2 separate regions of the Homo sapiens genome follow, and region 2 is linked to region 1. Evidence: fine-mapped expression QTL. Tissue or cell type: whole blood. Region 1 holds a variant in brackets; the other region holds the start of a gene. All regions are shown on one strand. Distances are from middle to middle.

Region 1 (8,000 bases):
AGAAACCAATGAGTCCGTAGTCTAGGACCAAGCTGGTGAGGATCTGATTTGAGTTAGAGATGATGGGGTGGAGGGCAGGGATCAGATTCAAGAGATGTAAAGGAATTATAATGTCCTCAAATGACAATAAATGAGTGCATACCTGCTTACATGAATGAATGAATGAGATGTGGACAGTGAGAGCATGGAAGGGGAGGATGCATTCTAAATTCTAGCTTGATTGACAGGTGGATCATGTGACATTCACAAACAGGGAACCAAGGGAGGGAAGCAGATCCAAGTGGCAAGATAAGGAGTTCAAGTTAAAGAGCGATACGGTCTTAAGGATATCTTCCTCCTTTTCAGCTTCATAATAATATTTTAAGAAATTAGAATCGTTTAGTGTTTCAGGACTCCTGGGGTGAGAACATTTGAAGTTGTCAATCATTAACAATCACAGTGATGGAGTATGCTTTGACACCACCTCCTAGTGGCCTAGCCCAGTGCTGAGCACACAGTAGGGAAGATAGAATAATCACTGGTCTTATTTGCCAAGGACCTGGATCTTAATTCCATGTCTGTCTTAGGGGCAAGACATTTAACTCCTGGGCACCTCAGTTTGCTCTTCTACCACATGTGAAAATGAATAAAACCTGTTCTGTTCACTTCCAATTGTGGTCGGGAGCCCCAAAAGCAGTGCATGAAAGTGCCCTGTAAGCTTCATTCAGCCACATCCGTGGAAGCAGTTGATGTTATTATACTCAGTAATAAATTGATATTTCATAAATCACTTTGATGTGGGTGACATGAGGCTGCCAGCCTCCTCTCCCAGGCAGTTAGGGTCCAGGGCTGAGCATGGAGCAGAGAGGATCAGAGGCTGAGGCTTGGGTGAAAGCAGGCAAGAAATGAGGGACTGCTTGAAACCCCACTGTTAAGGGGGTTAAGGATTTTAAACACCACTGTTAGGAAGCAGAGCCAGTTCTGGAGTGAAGAGGCTGCAAATAGGGCCAGTTATAACCCAAATGGGTGCAAGCGTTAACACTTGGAGAGATTTCAGAGGTCACAGAGGTGTTGGAGTGACACCTTTTATAGGTTGCCTGTGGCCCTGCTGGGAAGGGAGCTGTTAAGGTTCTTGGACTACCTGGGGCTGAGGGCTTTATGCAGACGCCGGAGACAGCCAGCCACCTTTGTGGCGTGATCTGGTGGGCTTCAGGAAGGCCTCCGCACACTGCCTTCCTCACTACCTGCTAATGATCCCTGAAAGTGCATGAAACATGCATTCCTTGAGCTATTCTATTATTACTTCTAATAATACTAATAAGGAGTCTGTATCATACTTCCAGTCTGCACAGAGCTCTCCTATGTATTATCTTTTTTGAGTCTCACAATGGCACAGTGAAGTCTTATTTCCCCCATTTTAAAATGAGGAAACTTTTCTGATTAAAAAAGAGAAAAATAAAGAAATTAAAAGATTTTTTTTTAAAGATTGGTTTTTGGAATGTGGGCTTTCAGAGAGGAACATCTAGGTCAAAATACCCAAAGACAGTGTATGATTTAAAATGCGGTGACTCCAAACCCATACCCACTCTCTCCAGGACAGTTATTCTCCTAACCATTTAATTAAGCCCAAAAGGCAACTTTTGATTTCACTGATTTTTCTAGGTGCCAGGGACACAGCAGTGAGTGAGACAGTCTATTCTACCTTCCAGGAGTTCACAGGCCAGCGGGGAAGCATTTGAGGCTCAAATAATGATGACCGTGGAGAGATTTTACTAGGGGCGGCTGAGGCTGCTGGACAGCTCTCAGCAGAAGTTGGCCAAGTTCACCAAGCTGCATTCGACTGCCTGTTTCTCTGAGCCATCTTAGCCACACAAGCCTGCAGTTATACTGCATTGACTTCTAATTCCTTCCCACCTGCTGCACCCTGGTACTTGCTGTGACTCCTTTTCTGGGTTCTTCATGCTGAACAGATGCGATGTGAGGCAAACCTCAGCTCTCTCATGTTCTCAGTGAAGTGCTCAGTTTTGCCTGGCGCACAGTTGGTGGTCAGTAAATTGTAGTAGTTATTATTAGAATTATTGCTTTCTTGTGATTATTCATGGTTGGAAGATCTGGAACTTCAACTAAAGGCTTCTCTCTCAACACAAATAGCCAGACCAAGCAATTAGCATCTTATGGTGACTTTTTTTTTTTTTTTCGAGACAGAGTCTCTGTTGCCCAGGCTGGAGTGCAGTGGCACCATCTTGGCTCACTGCGACTCTGCCTCCTGGGTTCAAGCGATTATCCTGCCTCAGACTCCCAAGTAGCTGGGACTACAGGCAGATGCCACACAACCACGCCCAGCTAATTTTTGTATTTTTAGTAGAGATGGGGTTTCACCATATTGGCCAGGCTGGTCCCGGACTCCTGACTCCAGGTAATGCCCCGGCCTTGGCCTCGCAAAATGCTGGGATTATAGGCGTGAGCCACCGCGCCCGGCCTATGGTGACTTATTTAGCAAAACTTTTCCCATTTGACAAGTAGCTAAGAGTCACCTCTTGCCAAACAAAGAGGAAGAGAAAGAGGAAGGCGAAGCCTCCAGGCCAGATCTTTCCTTTTGGCAGGGCCCAGCAGTTCAGGGGGACCAGGAAAAGGAAGGAGATTGGGGCAGTGCACCCACTTTGGTGACACCGGCAGCACGGAGGATGGATTGCACTTGGACAGAAGAGGACTCCCAGGCCATGAGTACCTGTGTGCCAGGCACTTCTCATGGATTACCTGTGCAAGGTAGATGCTCTTACCCGCACTTTACAGGTGAACACATCGAAAGTTCAGAGATCCGCCTGAAATCAGCCAGCCAGTATGTGGCCAAATGAGGGTTTGAAACCAGGACTGTCTTATTTCAAAACTTGTGCTCTTTCTAATACATGCTACTGTTTCCTGATGAGATTGCCACATTGCACAATGTGGCACCAAGGGGCACCATTCACATGGTCATCAGTATAAATGGCACCTGGGAATTGAACAGCATAGTGGCTAGGTATCCTAAGATCAGAGGCACGATCTCCATTAAATAGCAGCTATTGCAGAGGAGAAATGACGAGGACCTAACCTGGAGGGGTTGGAAAGGAAGGGACAACTTCGAGAGACATTTAAGAGATAGATTTGACAGAATTGGCAGTTGACTGGGTGTGGAGTTAAGAAATAAGGGAGTTGAGGCTGTCTCTGAAGTTTCTAGCTTAGGTGCCTGGGAGAATAGTAATGCCCTTATTGGTTAGGAAGGCAAAGGGGAAGGGGCTGTTGGGCAGAAAACATCACGGAATGCCACTTCCCCTGCTTACCCATTTGACCTGGGTTAGGAGATGAACTTGATTTAAGGGTACCACCTGGACCTGTGCTTTGGTTTCTTGCTTTTCTACTTAAGGTCAAACTCAGAAACAATCTGGGCCATTAAAAGTTCTTGTGCTTTTAGCTGTAGTTGACTAACCTGGTCCTGTCCTCAGGATTGACTAAATCCCACCCCCAGTGATGGGACTTGCCTGCTTAGCCCAGCTGAACATGTCCCCGGGGCCCTGCTTCCCCTAGACCTCCCTTGCAGAAGCTGCCCACAAGGTCTGCCCAACCTTTCCCTTATCCCTCCATGTTCCCAGACACCAGACACTAAAGCTCTACATTTCTTGGCACTGGACCCTGTGTGGTATAAGGCATGGTCGGCCCCTTGCAGCCATGGTAATCTCACAGTTTCCCAGACCCTCTCTTCCTCTCATCCTCCAACAAAACTACCTGAGCTCTAGGACCTCCACCTGTCTGGGGCCATGCCCAACTCAGCCCCCACTCAGAGCCTGTCCTTGCTCCCTGGCCCAGGCGATGAACAGGCTGTAGACCCATAAAGCTTCCTGCAGCTTGCAGTGAATGGATGCCTGTTTGTAAACCAGGACATTGGACATGGCACGTCTGCTGCAGAAAGTGAGGGGCGCCCTTCCACGTAGCTCTCAAGCCATTATCCGTGAAGCATTCCTTCATCTCAGGGTAACATCTGCCCGTATCCACTTGTGGCTCTGACCTGACCTTCAACTATAGCTATTTGGACCCTTACATACCATTGTATACACAAAGATTTGCACACATGTATGCACACATGCACACACACACACACACACACACACACACTTTTAAAAATGTTTTTCATGTGAAAGCCCAGTGATGATAAAGCAAGCTGTCAGGATTTAAAAA[A/G]AAAATACAATAATGCAATTCACAGAGGACAGTCAGTGGTTAGCACAGCTTCTACTCATGTTTTTACACCTTCTGGAGGTGTGACAGGGTGTGCTTGGTGTTAGAGTTGGCCACAGTGAGACCCCAAGGCATTAAGATGTCTTCAATCAACTGTCCTCAAAACAGCGTTGACCAAACAGCTTTTAGGTACCAAGCACTCTCTAGATGCAGTGTGAACTTCAAAAATGAGGCAGACATATCTTTGCTTCCTGGAAACACACAGCCCCCTGTAGAGAGAGACCACATGTGTGAACAAACAATGCAACATGGGGTCCATCACAAAGCCACCCACACTTGGAGTAGTGGAAGACCTGGTCCTGGTCTCTGCCCCACCACTTGGCTTTACCAGGTCCCATTTGCTCTGTTCTTCACCCTCATTCCCTGGTTTGGGACAATGGGAGTCGATTCCTGTTGGGAGCAGGGACCCTCAGGATATCCCTTCCTGGGATATTTATAAGAAGAGGATCAAGGTCCCCATGAGAACCTGTTCCACCCGAGGGACTGTTCCTTTCTGTCATTGTATGAAGGTTACAACCAGCCAGGCAGTGTGGCTGGGGCGGGGTTGGGGAGGCATAATGGGAGCCTAAGTGAGCCAGGTGTGCATTCTTAGGTAGGGCTCAAGATGGGTGGGCAGCGGAAACTGGGTGAACTTTAATCCCTTCCATTCCTGAAATGTGTTCGTTTTATGAAATATCTCTCTCCGCAAAATGTCTCCACCACTTGACTTTGGATTTCTAAGAAATGTTTCTCTGAATAGATGTAGAGTAGCATTTCCCAGATTGCGTTCTGAAGCACGCCACTGCCAGGCACTCATGGATTTTGGAGGAGAAAAAAAAACCCATAGTCCTGCTTTGTTCCATGGTCAGTGTGTTTGGGAAGTTCAGGGTTAAACAAAATTAAACCAGCTGCTTCACTGCTGGACTCTTTTCAGCCTTTAATATGCTAGTGATTATTACGAATCTTGAAAAGGCAGATATAATATGCATTGTTTTCCAGCCTTATCTGAGCATGGAACCTTGTCTTCATGAAATTTCTGTTGGTGTCACCTGGAAACCTAATGCCCTGAGGAACACACTTTGATAAATACTGGCACATAAGATGTTCATTGTTTGTAAACTAACGGTGGTCAGTTATTTCCCATATTCTTTTAGACAATAGTCTTCAATAGCAGCAGGAAAGTCTTAAGTTTAGATAAAAAGGAGAATTTCCTAACTGTAAGGATTCTTAGATACTAGAACCTTAGAGTGTCGTGGGAAATGGCAGTAAAAGAATGTGCCCCTCCCCCTTCCTTGTCCTTCCACAGGCTATCCCATGAGTCATTATAAATAGAATGAATTATCAAGGAAGCTTCTGGAATCTTTTTATCTTAAGAGGCCTTTGAAAGTTGCATAGAATTGTGGGACAAGAAGGTAGGAATAAAAAGGCAGGAAGACAGACTGGCTGACTTCTGGGTAGACTGTCTCTAAGTGTCTGTAATTAACTCATTCATTCTTACTCCGCCCAGAACATGCATTTGAAGGGAATACCTTTCTAACTTGTGGAACTGAAGAGGCAGAAAGCCAGAAGCTACCCCAGATTTCACGGTGGTCTTTCAGTAGCTGTCGTATTTGCCAAATAGGAGGCTAAGCTTTACATGCATCTTACTTGTTTCTTGAAATAACCTATAAGGTTGCTAATATTGTTTCTTTTTAAAAAACAAGGATCTGAAGCCCAGAAGGTTACAGACCTTGCCGAAAGTCAAACAGCCAGTATGGTAAGGAACCTGGATTTGAACACCAAAGCCTGAATCCACTATATCACCCCAGCTGCCACTGTGAATCTGTGGACATCCAGAGCCTCAGGGCTTCCTTAAAATGAGCCTTCATCCATCGGGCTCTGTGTGTGGGGAGAGGATGGAGTTGGGCTGATGTGTCTGCCCACAATGATAAGGAAGCCAGGGAAGAGGACATTTTCCAGCCCCTGCCAACCATGCCCAGCCAGGCCCCTTGGTTTGCCCACAACAGTCTGGCTCTGCCCCAGTCCCTGCACCCTTGCCAAATGCATCTTCTTCCATTAGCCATCTGCCCCCTTGTGCCTACCGATAGCCCACAGCACATGGGCAGCTGCCCTGTTAGAGAGATAGGAGATAATATCAGTGTAGGAATCAATACATTCTCTGGCATGTCCTTTTTCCCCTAATGGGAATGTGGCAGGATCCAAAATACACTTAAACCTTATCCAAATCCACTCTGTCAGGCATTGGTGGCTTCAAAGGAAGCTTGGTACCTCCAGTTTGCACGTGTAAGCTAATGAAGCTGGGCTCTGGGTAGGTGAGCTGAGGCCTGTAGCCTGAGGCCTTGGCAGTGTCTGGAGCTGTGTGGCAAGGATGCAAGGGTGGCGCCAGGGGCCTACAGCAGCTAAGTCTTCAGAAGAGGAGACTGCCTGGAGGAAAGCAATCTTTCTTCCTGGCCAGAAGGAAAGCCTAAGGCACTTGCCATCTGTCATGTCAGGCTGAGTGGCTGACGGGCTAGTCCTAGGGTCTGGAAGTCCTGTGTACCCCCAGGGTGTGGATCTGTGTGCAAGGCACTTGGAATGAACATGAAATGAATGTGATTTTTGTGTGAAAAGGTGGCCTGACGCACATTTGAAGGCATCTTTCCGGGAGCGGGGATCAGTGAGCTGAATAATCTACACCCTCTTGACTGGTTTCGCTGTACAGGGCCCAGGGAGACCTTGGGGGCCAGGGCTCAGAGCTCAGAGGAGGACACTGCCCCTCTCTATAACACTAACTGGCCTCGGTGCACTCACACCTGCAGGCTAACACGTGGCCCCACCAGCGTTATTGCATGAGGACCATGGGTTGCAGGGAGAACTCCTTTGAGCTTCTAAATGTCACTGCCTTTAGATGGGATTTCCCTGACTGCGTCATCTAAAGTAGCAGTCCCTCACCCCAAGTCCCATCCCCATAGCTATATGAAATGACGATGAATTTGTTTCCTTACTATCTGTCTCTTCCACTAACTGCAAGCTTCCTGAGGGCAACAAGTGTGTCTCTCTCATCCATATCCTCCATGCCTAGAACCATGTCTGGCACATGATAAATGCTTAAATGTGTATCAAGTGAATGAAAAAATTAGTGGTAAATGAAGGCACCACCCTACCCGCAAACCTTCAGGTTGAGGTTCTTAGAAAGCAAACTTGGTTTTGGCATTCCTCCACTGACAGTTCCCCTGGGTCCCATCACACATAGGACAAAGGGCACATTCCCAAGCCTGGCATCCTGACTCTTATGGTCTGGTCTCTGCTGACTGCCCCAGCTTCGTTTCTCACCATCCCTCTCCCAGGCCCCCTTGTATCCAGTGTGCTAACCCACACTTCAGGTGTATAAGACTTAGGGTCCTGCTGGAAATGCAAGCTCCTGGGCCTCAGCTCCCCAGATTCGGATTCAGGTAGTGTTAGGTAGGGTTCAGAAATCATCCTCTTTTTTTTTTTTTTTTTTTTTTTTTTTTTTTTGAGACAGAGCTTTGCTCTTCTTGCCCAGGCTGGAGTGCAATGGCACAATCTCGGCTCACTGCAACCTCCGCCTCCTGGGTTCAAGCGATTCTCCTGCCTCACCCTCCCAAGTAGCTGGGATTACAGGAATGCACCACCACATCCGGCTAGTTTTGTATTTTTAGTAGAGATGGGGTTTCACCATGTTGGTCAGTCTGGTCTTGAACTCCTGACCTCAAGTGATCCATCCTTCTCGGCCTCCCAAAGTGCTGGGATTATGAGCGTGAGCCACTGCACCC
Region 2 (8,140 bases), 350 kb before region 1:
TGCAGCCAGCTGCGTTAAACAGCATGCTGCCATGAGACTTGGGGACTATGTGAACCACACACACATATATGTTTGCTCTTTGCCAATACTTGCCCATAATATCACTGGGCAAAACCACTGCTTACTGCATCCTTTAAAGCATGAGTAAACATCGAGAACATTTCTCCTTCTAACTCACTTCTGCTTCAAAACTGGTTCTGTGAGACATCTGCTGTAAGAATGAACCATTTATCCTCCAAACAAGTGACAAGAAGAACACAGAATTTATTTTCTTTTAATCTGGAGTTTAAGTACTCCGATAGGACTGATGAATTTTAATAGTCTTGCAATATGATATATAATCAGGCCCTTGCTTCCTTCAACCTAAGTTCCTCAAATGTGAACCCCAGCTTCAACTTAGGTTGTAAAGACTTTAAGCTTACCAAGGGCACAGTTTCATATTTGCCAGTTAGGATTTCATCTGACTCATCTGGACAAATGACAGGAGCAAATCCGATTTGCCAGAACTGTAGACCTCATTAACCCCTTCTCTCTATTGGTTTATCCATTCAACACATTTACTAAGAATCTCCTATGCCAAGCACTGTGTGGTTAATAGATTTTTTTTTTTTTTTTTTTGAGCTGGAGTTTCATTCTTGTTGCCCAGGCTGGAGTGCAATGGCACGATCTCAGCAACCTCTGCCTCCCCAGTTCAAGTGATTCTCCTGCCTCGGCCTCCTGAGTAGCTGGGACTACAGGTCCCATGCCACCACGCCCGGATAAGTTTGTATTTTTAGTAGAGACAGGGTTTCTCCATGTTGGCCAGGCTGGTCTCAAACTCTGACCTCAGGTGATCCACCCGCCTCGGCCTCCCAAAGTGCTGAGATTACAGGTGTGAGCCACTGTGCCCGGCCAGAGATTTTTTAAAAAGCCTATAGTCTAATTATGAACTTGAGATGAACCTTCAAGGGACCTTTGGAAAAGAAATGGTAGGTAAATTTAAGATCAAATATCTGATTTGCGGATATACCTGAGGCAAATACAAAGAAGGGAGAAGCTAAAATATAAATCCAGGAGAACAAGCTCACAGTCTATTAGTGAGAGCAGACGTGAAACAAGTAAGTGACCATAAACTCTAACAAGCACAAGAGAGATCCCGAGAAGGGAGTAATTACTTCTGTTGGGAAGGGACTAGATAGCCAGGTATGATAAACTTCTAGTAGGAGAGGTTCCCAAACAGAATTCTGAGCGGTTAATAGGAACTTGTGTATCAGTGTGTATGTGGGAGGTAGGGTGGGGACTCTGGGCAGAATTCAGTGTGTTAAAGGCACAGAGGTATGAAATGGGATGAGCAGAGAACTCAGTGCTGCTTGGTACTGACTGAAGGTGAGATGGACAGAAATGGATGATGGGTGAGGTGGGGAAGTAAGCAGGGAACTTGTATGCTGTGCTAAGAAGTTTTGGACTCGAGGCTGGGTGCGGTGGTGCACGCCTGTAATCCCAGCACTTTGGGAGGCCGAGGCGGGCAGATCACGAGGTCAAGAGTTGGAGACCAGCCTGGCCAACATGGTGAAACCCCATCTCTACTAAAAATACAAAGGTTAGCCGGGCGTGGTGGCGGGTGCCTGTAGTCCCAGATACTCAGGAGGCTGAGGCAGGAGAATCGCTTGAACCCGGGAGGCAGAGGTTGCAGTGAGCCGAGATTCCGCCACTGTACTCCACTCCAGCCTGGTGACAGAGGAGTGACTCCGTCTTAAAAAAAAAAAAGTTTTGGACTCAATATGAGGTCATGAAGGGGTTTTCAGCAAGGGTGTAAAGTGGTGAAGCTTGTTTTAGAGACATCACTCTGGCAGCCATTTGTAGACATATTGGAGGGAGCCAATTTAAAGGCAGGGAGATGAGCTAGAGGGCCGCTGCAATAGTTTCTAAGACATGGTGACATGATATGATATGTGCCACTCAGCAAGGTGACAACAAGTCACCTGCTCACCGTGTGCCTCAGCTGGCCCCATTTATGCAGAGGGATCATTATGAATGTGTGATGAACCTTCAAAGGGACCTTCGGAAAAGACATGGCAGGTACATTTAAGATCAAATATTCTTCTTAGTGGATATACCAGAGGCAGATAGATGGAAGAAATTAAAGATAAATCCAAGAGAACAAACTCCTTCCTGTGCGCTCCGACCACCATGGCGCCCAAGCACAATGAATCCTATCCGTCCTGCACAGCATAGCAGCTGGCTGTGAGGGATGTTTCAGATGAGAGGTTCTAGAGGTGGGAGCCCCATTTCCCAACCCTTCTGTTTTTTCATTCAAGGCAGCAGCCTCAGAGTAGATCAGCGGGGCCAGCCTCGTGGCCCTCTGACATTCTCCCCCTGTGGCTTCCAAAAAAGATCTGGACTGACCTTCCCACCCCTGGAGCTGAGCTTGAGAAGTCAGCTTGCCTGGAATTGAATTTTTTCAGTAGTAAAAAAGGTGGAGAGCAAGTAGTAAGTATCCCAAAGAACTCAACATCTTGCAGCAAGGGGAGACAGGAGAGTGGGTGGGGGCAACCAGGCTGAGGCTAACAGCAGACTTCTGTACCGGCAGACTTCGCTGACATTGTTGTCCACCCTGTGACTGGTAGGGACTCCCTGCTTCTAGGGGCAGAGGCCTTAAGAAAGGAAAAGAAAGTCAGAACCATTCTTGCAAGAAGGGGAGAAACCAGGGCCCTCAGGAGGCCACAGCCAAGACTATCTCCAGAGCCATCAGCAATCTCTCTGACCTGCCAAAAGCTCCTCCCCGCTTCCCTGGTTAATAGGATGAGATCACCAGGCAAAAGAATATGATGAAGCATTTCACTTATATAGTATTTTTCTTTCCAAACACTTAATAAGCCTCTCTGGTCTCGCTGATCTTGCATTCTTCCCGTGAAAGGGGCCAGGGATCCATGCTTGGCATTTCAGAGTTTGCGCGGCTTGAGAGATCATCTAGTCTGCTTCCCTCACTTTTAGAGTTATGGGAACTGAAGTCCAGGGAAGTGAAATCGCTTGCTGGGATCACAGGGATGCCTCTCCCTCCTCCCAGCCCCGTACACTTTCTGCTAGGCTTATGCTGCTGTTCCGTCCATTTTGCACAAGAGAGGGGGTTCCAGAGTGGGGGAATAGAGTTGGAATTAGAAATTAGTTTTGTGTCACTGGCTTACAGGTGCTCTTAAACCTTAACAGGTTTAACATCCTCTGTAAAATGGGACTAGTGTCACCTCAACACCTACCTTGCAAAGTTGATTATTGGGAATCACACTTGTGTAAGCGGTATAGTCTTGGCAAACAGTAGGTGCTAAATAATGTCTGGCTGGAGGAATGGAGCCCTGTTCGCATATGGCATTCATCCAGCCAGTGTGTGGAGCTGGGGGAGGGATAGGCACGACTCCTGAAGCAGGAGGCCCAGTACGCGCCCAGGCTAGCCAGCCAGCCCTCCCCGGGGAATGCAACGTCCAGAACAGTCTATAGTCCCGATAGTATGCCTCATGCGTGAGACCTGACCAAGGACGTCTGTGAACAAACCCTTCACAGAGAGCTTAATGAGATTGTGGGAGTGCTGGTGGTTGGGTGTGGGGATACAGGCCATTGAAGGTGAGAGGGCCGGTGTGATCAGTTTGGTGGTCTGCCCAAGACAGAGACTCTGCGGGTTGGATAAGAGGGAGCTAATAGGTTTGAGGGGGTCACGTGTCCCTTGCCCTCCCTCCTATTCCCCCAGGACTCCCTCTTCACCCAGCCTCCTCCTAAGGGCAACTCTGTTGTATTAGGATGAACCACACGGTGTACTGAAATGAACCGCGCGTCAGAAAGCGGGGTTGCCTCCTGGGTCCTGCCACTTGCTCCCCGTGTGTTCTTGGCCTGGTCCCTTCACCTCTCCTAGCCTCAGGATCTTCATGCGTAACATGAGATCCTCCCAAGATGTTGGTATGTATACAACAGTGCTCTGGAATGACTCCATGCAAGCTGTTGCTCTTCAGTCTCCTGAACAAGGTGCTCTTGTCTCGTCCCATGAAACCTCCACCTCTCCATCTTCCGCACCACTGAGGCCGCAGTCTCTTCTAACGGGGCACGCTCGTCCCCCGCGCTGTTTCCCGAATGCCACCAGGGGGCGCCCCTTGCTCGCTGAAGCCGCCGGGCTAATAACTCCTCGGGGCCGGGGCGGGCTGCCCCTTTGCGCAGGGCGGTGGAGTGTGCGGGCTGCGCCGGGTTCCCCACCTGAGGTCCGTACCTCGCAGAGCCCGCTTGGCCGCGCGCCCCTAGCCTCTGCCGGGCGCCGCTCCCCAGCCGGGCGCCTCTCGCTCGGCCCCGGGCCCCCGGGCAGCCGCAAGTTTGCCCCCGGCCGCGCGGACCCGCGCCCGCCCTGCCCGCAGCAGCCCCCGCCGTTCCCGCCGCCCCCGCCGCCCCCGCGCCTGGGCTCCCGGGCGACGCTCCGAGGGGCGCTGGGGGGCGCGTGCAGCTGCCCGCGGGGCTCCGGCCCGGCCCCGAAGGGGCGCCCCCCCGGCCGGCCGTGCGCGGGGCCGCAGCAGTTCCCCAGCTGCCCGCCGGGCGGCGCCCCGCGCCTCGCTGCGCTCCTCCCGCGCTCCCCGCGCCGGGCTCGCTCGCAGCCGGACACAGACTGCCTTCAGCTGCGGGCGGATCGGGCTGGAGCCGCCACGGCTGCTGCGGAAGAGGAAAAACGGCCAACAGCAGCCCCGCGGCCGGCCCGGCAGCGCCCGGCCCCCGGCTCAGCCCCCGGAGTGCGGAGCCGACCAGGTAAGGGCAGCGGCCCCCCGCGGCGCCCCCGGCCCGCTCCCTGCGCTGCCCCCGCGCCCCCGAGTCCCCTCCGCGCTGGCCCTTCCCGCACCCCGACTTCTGACGTCTCCGCCGCTCCTGCCCTCGGGGGCCGCGGCCCCGCACCCCTGCCCCGGCCCCCGCCCCCGCGCCCTCCTCCCCGCTCCCGCCTCCCGCCAGCCCGGTCCCTGGCACTTCGGTCCCTGCGTCTCCAGATTCGCCGCCGAACCCCCCACCGCTCTGCTCCCGTAGTTCCTCCAGTCTTCACCCCGGTCCGTCTCCCTCCCTCCGCATCCCTTCCCCGGGCTCGCGGTCCTCCCGCTCTGGTCCTCCCCCTCCCCGTGCAACTCCCAGCCCTGCCTCTGTCCCCTGCAGGGATGACAGCCCCTTCCCAGCCTGGCGCGTCTCCCCTACACCTCGTCACCCTCCGCTTCTCCCAGCGCCTCTGTTCCCCGGCTGCAGCCCCCCATCCCGGCTCAGCCTGGCATCCCACCAAGCCCCCTCCCCCTTTCCTCACTGCCATCTGCCTCGACTGCCCCCTGCCCCTGCACTGGACTCGGGCCACCACCACACCCCCCCACCCTGCACACCGCCTTGCTTGGGGGAACCAGCGTCCTATCAGAAATGATCCTCTTTCCCGGGGAGAATGGGGCTCCCACCCATCCCACCCTAGTTCATCCGAGTGGGAAGTGAGGGAGAAACTCTAGAGACCTGCAATGGGCGCGTGATGGGGGAGGGGGCTGGGGCGGAGGGGGAGGGGAGCTGATTTAGATTCTCTTCAGTGAGGACTGGCAGAGCTGTGCGCTCCGACCTGGCTGGGGTGGAGGGCGTGCAGGCGACAGCTGGGACAGGGGGTTCAAGGCACTGAGAGCACCTGTGTCTCTTTCCCTGGCTCCCTTGAGCTGAGCAAAGTGAGGGGAGGAGTTGGAGCCTGGGGAGAGTTGGCTGAGGGCCTTGGGGTGGTGGAGGAGGCGGCCGAGGGGGCTGGGCCCCGGGCGCCTCTGGCCCGTCTGCCTGGCAGTGGTGGGGCAATGCGGGCCGAGCCACTCCCGGGCTGGACCTTGGGCTGCGTGGCTCTTGGCATCTGTACTTGATGCTGCCATCTTCCTCTTGGTGCTGTTGTCTGGTGATGCCACGCGGTGCCACCTCCCTGCCTCCCTCCAGTGGCTCTCCTGGGCATGTCTCCCAAGGGTCTGGGTTGTCTGGGAAGAGGAGGGGAGCTCTGAGCACAGCTGGGCCCTTTTGCCAGGCAGTGGGCAGCTGTCAAGACCAGGCCAAGAGGTCTGAGGGCTGGTCAGGAGGACTGAGCCCTGCCAGGAACAAAGAACTACCTTCACTTTCACTCCCTATGGGTCACCTGGTTGGTAGTGACACTTCTAGGAGCACCGGGAAACTGCGGGCGTGGTATCTCCGGGGAGAGAGGCCGCCTGGGTTGGTAGTGGGCATCTGAGAGACAAATCCGGTCCTGCCTGACTCCCTGACTGTCTGTGCTCGCGTGGTCAGGGGCGAGGGGCTTGTCGAGGTCCACTGTGTTCCGGTCCCACCAGGGATGGCAGCCCCTGGAATTCCACTGGGCGTCATCATGCTGGCTTTATTTGCTGAAGCTGCAGCTCAGGCTTCATCATTAATCAGGTTTATTATTTTTCTCACTGGCCAGATGTGTTCCTCAAGGTCACGACCCTTCGGAGAGTTAATCTAATATGCACACATTACAGTGTCTGGGTTTGTTTAATTTTCCATATTTTGTTCATTCCTTGTGGCCCGGGCTTGCCCACCAGCCTCCCGCCTGCCTCACCAGCTCCACCCCTCTGTCCTCCTCTGGACCTGCCACCTGAAACCCAGAGGCAGCACTGGTCCCTCCGGGTGGGGAAGAGGTGGATGCTCGGGAGGGGAGGTTGAGAGGGGATCTTGGTTTTCTGTGTTTTTCCCATCCCCCTACCTGGGCATCTTGATCGGTGGCTGCTGTCTTCCCCAGCAATGAAAATTCTTCCGAGAGCCTGGGTCGGCTTCGTGGTCTGATTTCCACTTTGGTTTTCCCTTAGGATGGAGAGGGAACTTTAGTACCGGGAGAGAGGCAGAGACTCTAGGAGAAAGTCCCAGCTGCAGGGAGTCAGGGCATCCAGGAGAGAGGAGCTCAGCTGCTTCTGAGGTGGTTCTCAGCCATCCAGAGATGGAAGGGAGGACAGGGGGACCGGCCCTGGGTTGGGGGAGAGACTGCTCAGAAGGCAAGAGAAGCAGCGAGGCGGAAGCTGGCCTTTGTGTGGCTGGCGAGGGTGGGCAGCGCCAAGCGTGTGTGGGAAGGATGCATCTCTTGGTGCTTCTGCATAGTACTAATCCCTTATGTGTGTATGGGGTTCTGCAGCATTCCAGATGCCTCTCAGAACAATTACTTCATTTGATCTCTACTACAGCCCTGCAAGCATCTGATCGCTCCTTACAGACAGCCTTATAAGGAGGCATTCATGACCCAACAGAAACTGAGGCTCAGAGAGGCTGGATGCCTCATCCAAGGCTCCACAGCTGGGTCCCAGGCCCCTGGACGCTCAGTCCAGTGCTGTTGGGCTCGTTGCTGTTGCTTTTTAAGGTCTCAGCTGTTTGGTTCTCAGAAAGCCCACCCTTGGTCCTGCCTGTTCCTCAGTTCATCCCCTTCGCCCTCTCCAGTGATGGCTCACCGTTTTCACCCCCACCCCAGGCCTGGTGGAGTCTTTGCTCTGTAGTCTCCTCAGCCTTAGACTGGCTGCCTGGGTGTCCCGCCACTCCCTAGACCCAACCAACCACCCCCTACCCCAAGTGGGCACTGCCTCTTGCCTCCTCCTTGTGGAAAGAACGGCTGGGTTCCCCCAGGCATGCAGCCGGGGTGCCTGGGGCACCCTCCTTCCCTCTCTCTGGTGCCTTAGGCCTCAGCCCACTCAGTTCTTCTGGGCACTTCGAGTGTCCACTCCGACCTTTGCTCTCCCACTGCCGTGGTCCCTACTTGGGCCTTTGGCTGTTCACCCTGAGTTACGGTCCTGAAAGCTTCCTTGTTGGGCCTCCAGCCTCAGTTTCCAGCCATCCTGCCGCTGTGCCTGTCTTCTTACAGAGGGTAACGCTTCTCACAGGGGACCCTGTCTCAGCAGCCGTCAGTGGCAGTGCCTTCCAAGATGCCTTGCAGGTGAAGGCCCTCTGCACGCTGACCCCAACTTTATGTCACAACGTGGTGTCTGGCATGATCTTGTCCCCCCTCCCCTGGCCACCCAGCCCTGGCACTGTGTGTCCTCACCCTGGCCCTTTGCATTTCCTCCTCTTTTCCTCCCATCCATATATTGCCCAGCCTTCAAGGTGCTGCTGGAAGAGGAACCAGTTCCAGCTACCAAGTATCAGGCAGACCTGG

Evidence for each region. PIP is the estimated chance that this variant, and not a neighbour inherited with it, causes the effect.
Region 2: it holds the start of GRIK4, and the variant in region 1 is fine-mapped to the expression of GRIK4 in whole blood (TOPMed, PIP above 0.99).

Annotation. Positions count from the first base shown.
Region 1 is chr11:120,853,404-120,861,403 of GRCh38, forward strand. All of the region lies in intron 8 of GRIK4 (glutamate ionotropic receptor kainate type subunit 4), which reads left to right. Among named protein-coding and RNA genes, the nearest start is that of TBCEL, 170 kb to the right of the region's middle. The variant A/G (reference allele first, on the strand shown) is at 4,192.
Region 2 is chr11:120,507,136-120,515,275 of GRCh38, forward strand. It overlaps GRIK4 (glutamate ionotropic receptor kainate type subunit 4), which reads left to right and starts at 4,613. Exons shown (of 21, transcript NM_014619.5): 1 at 4,613-4,752. RefSeq lists silencers at 4,224-4,303, 4,484-4,683.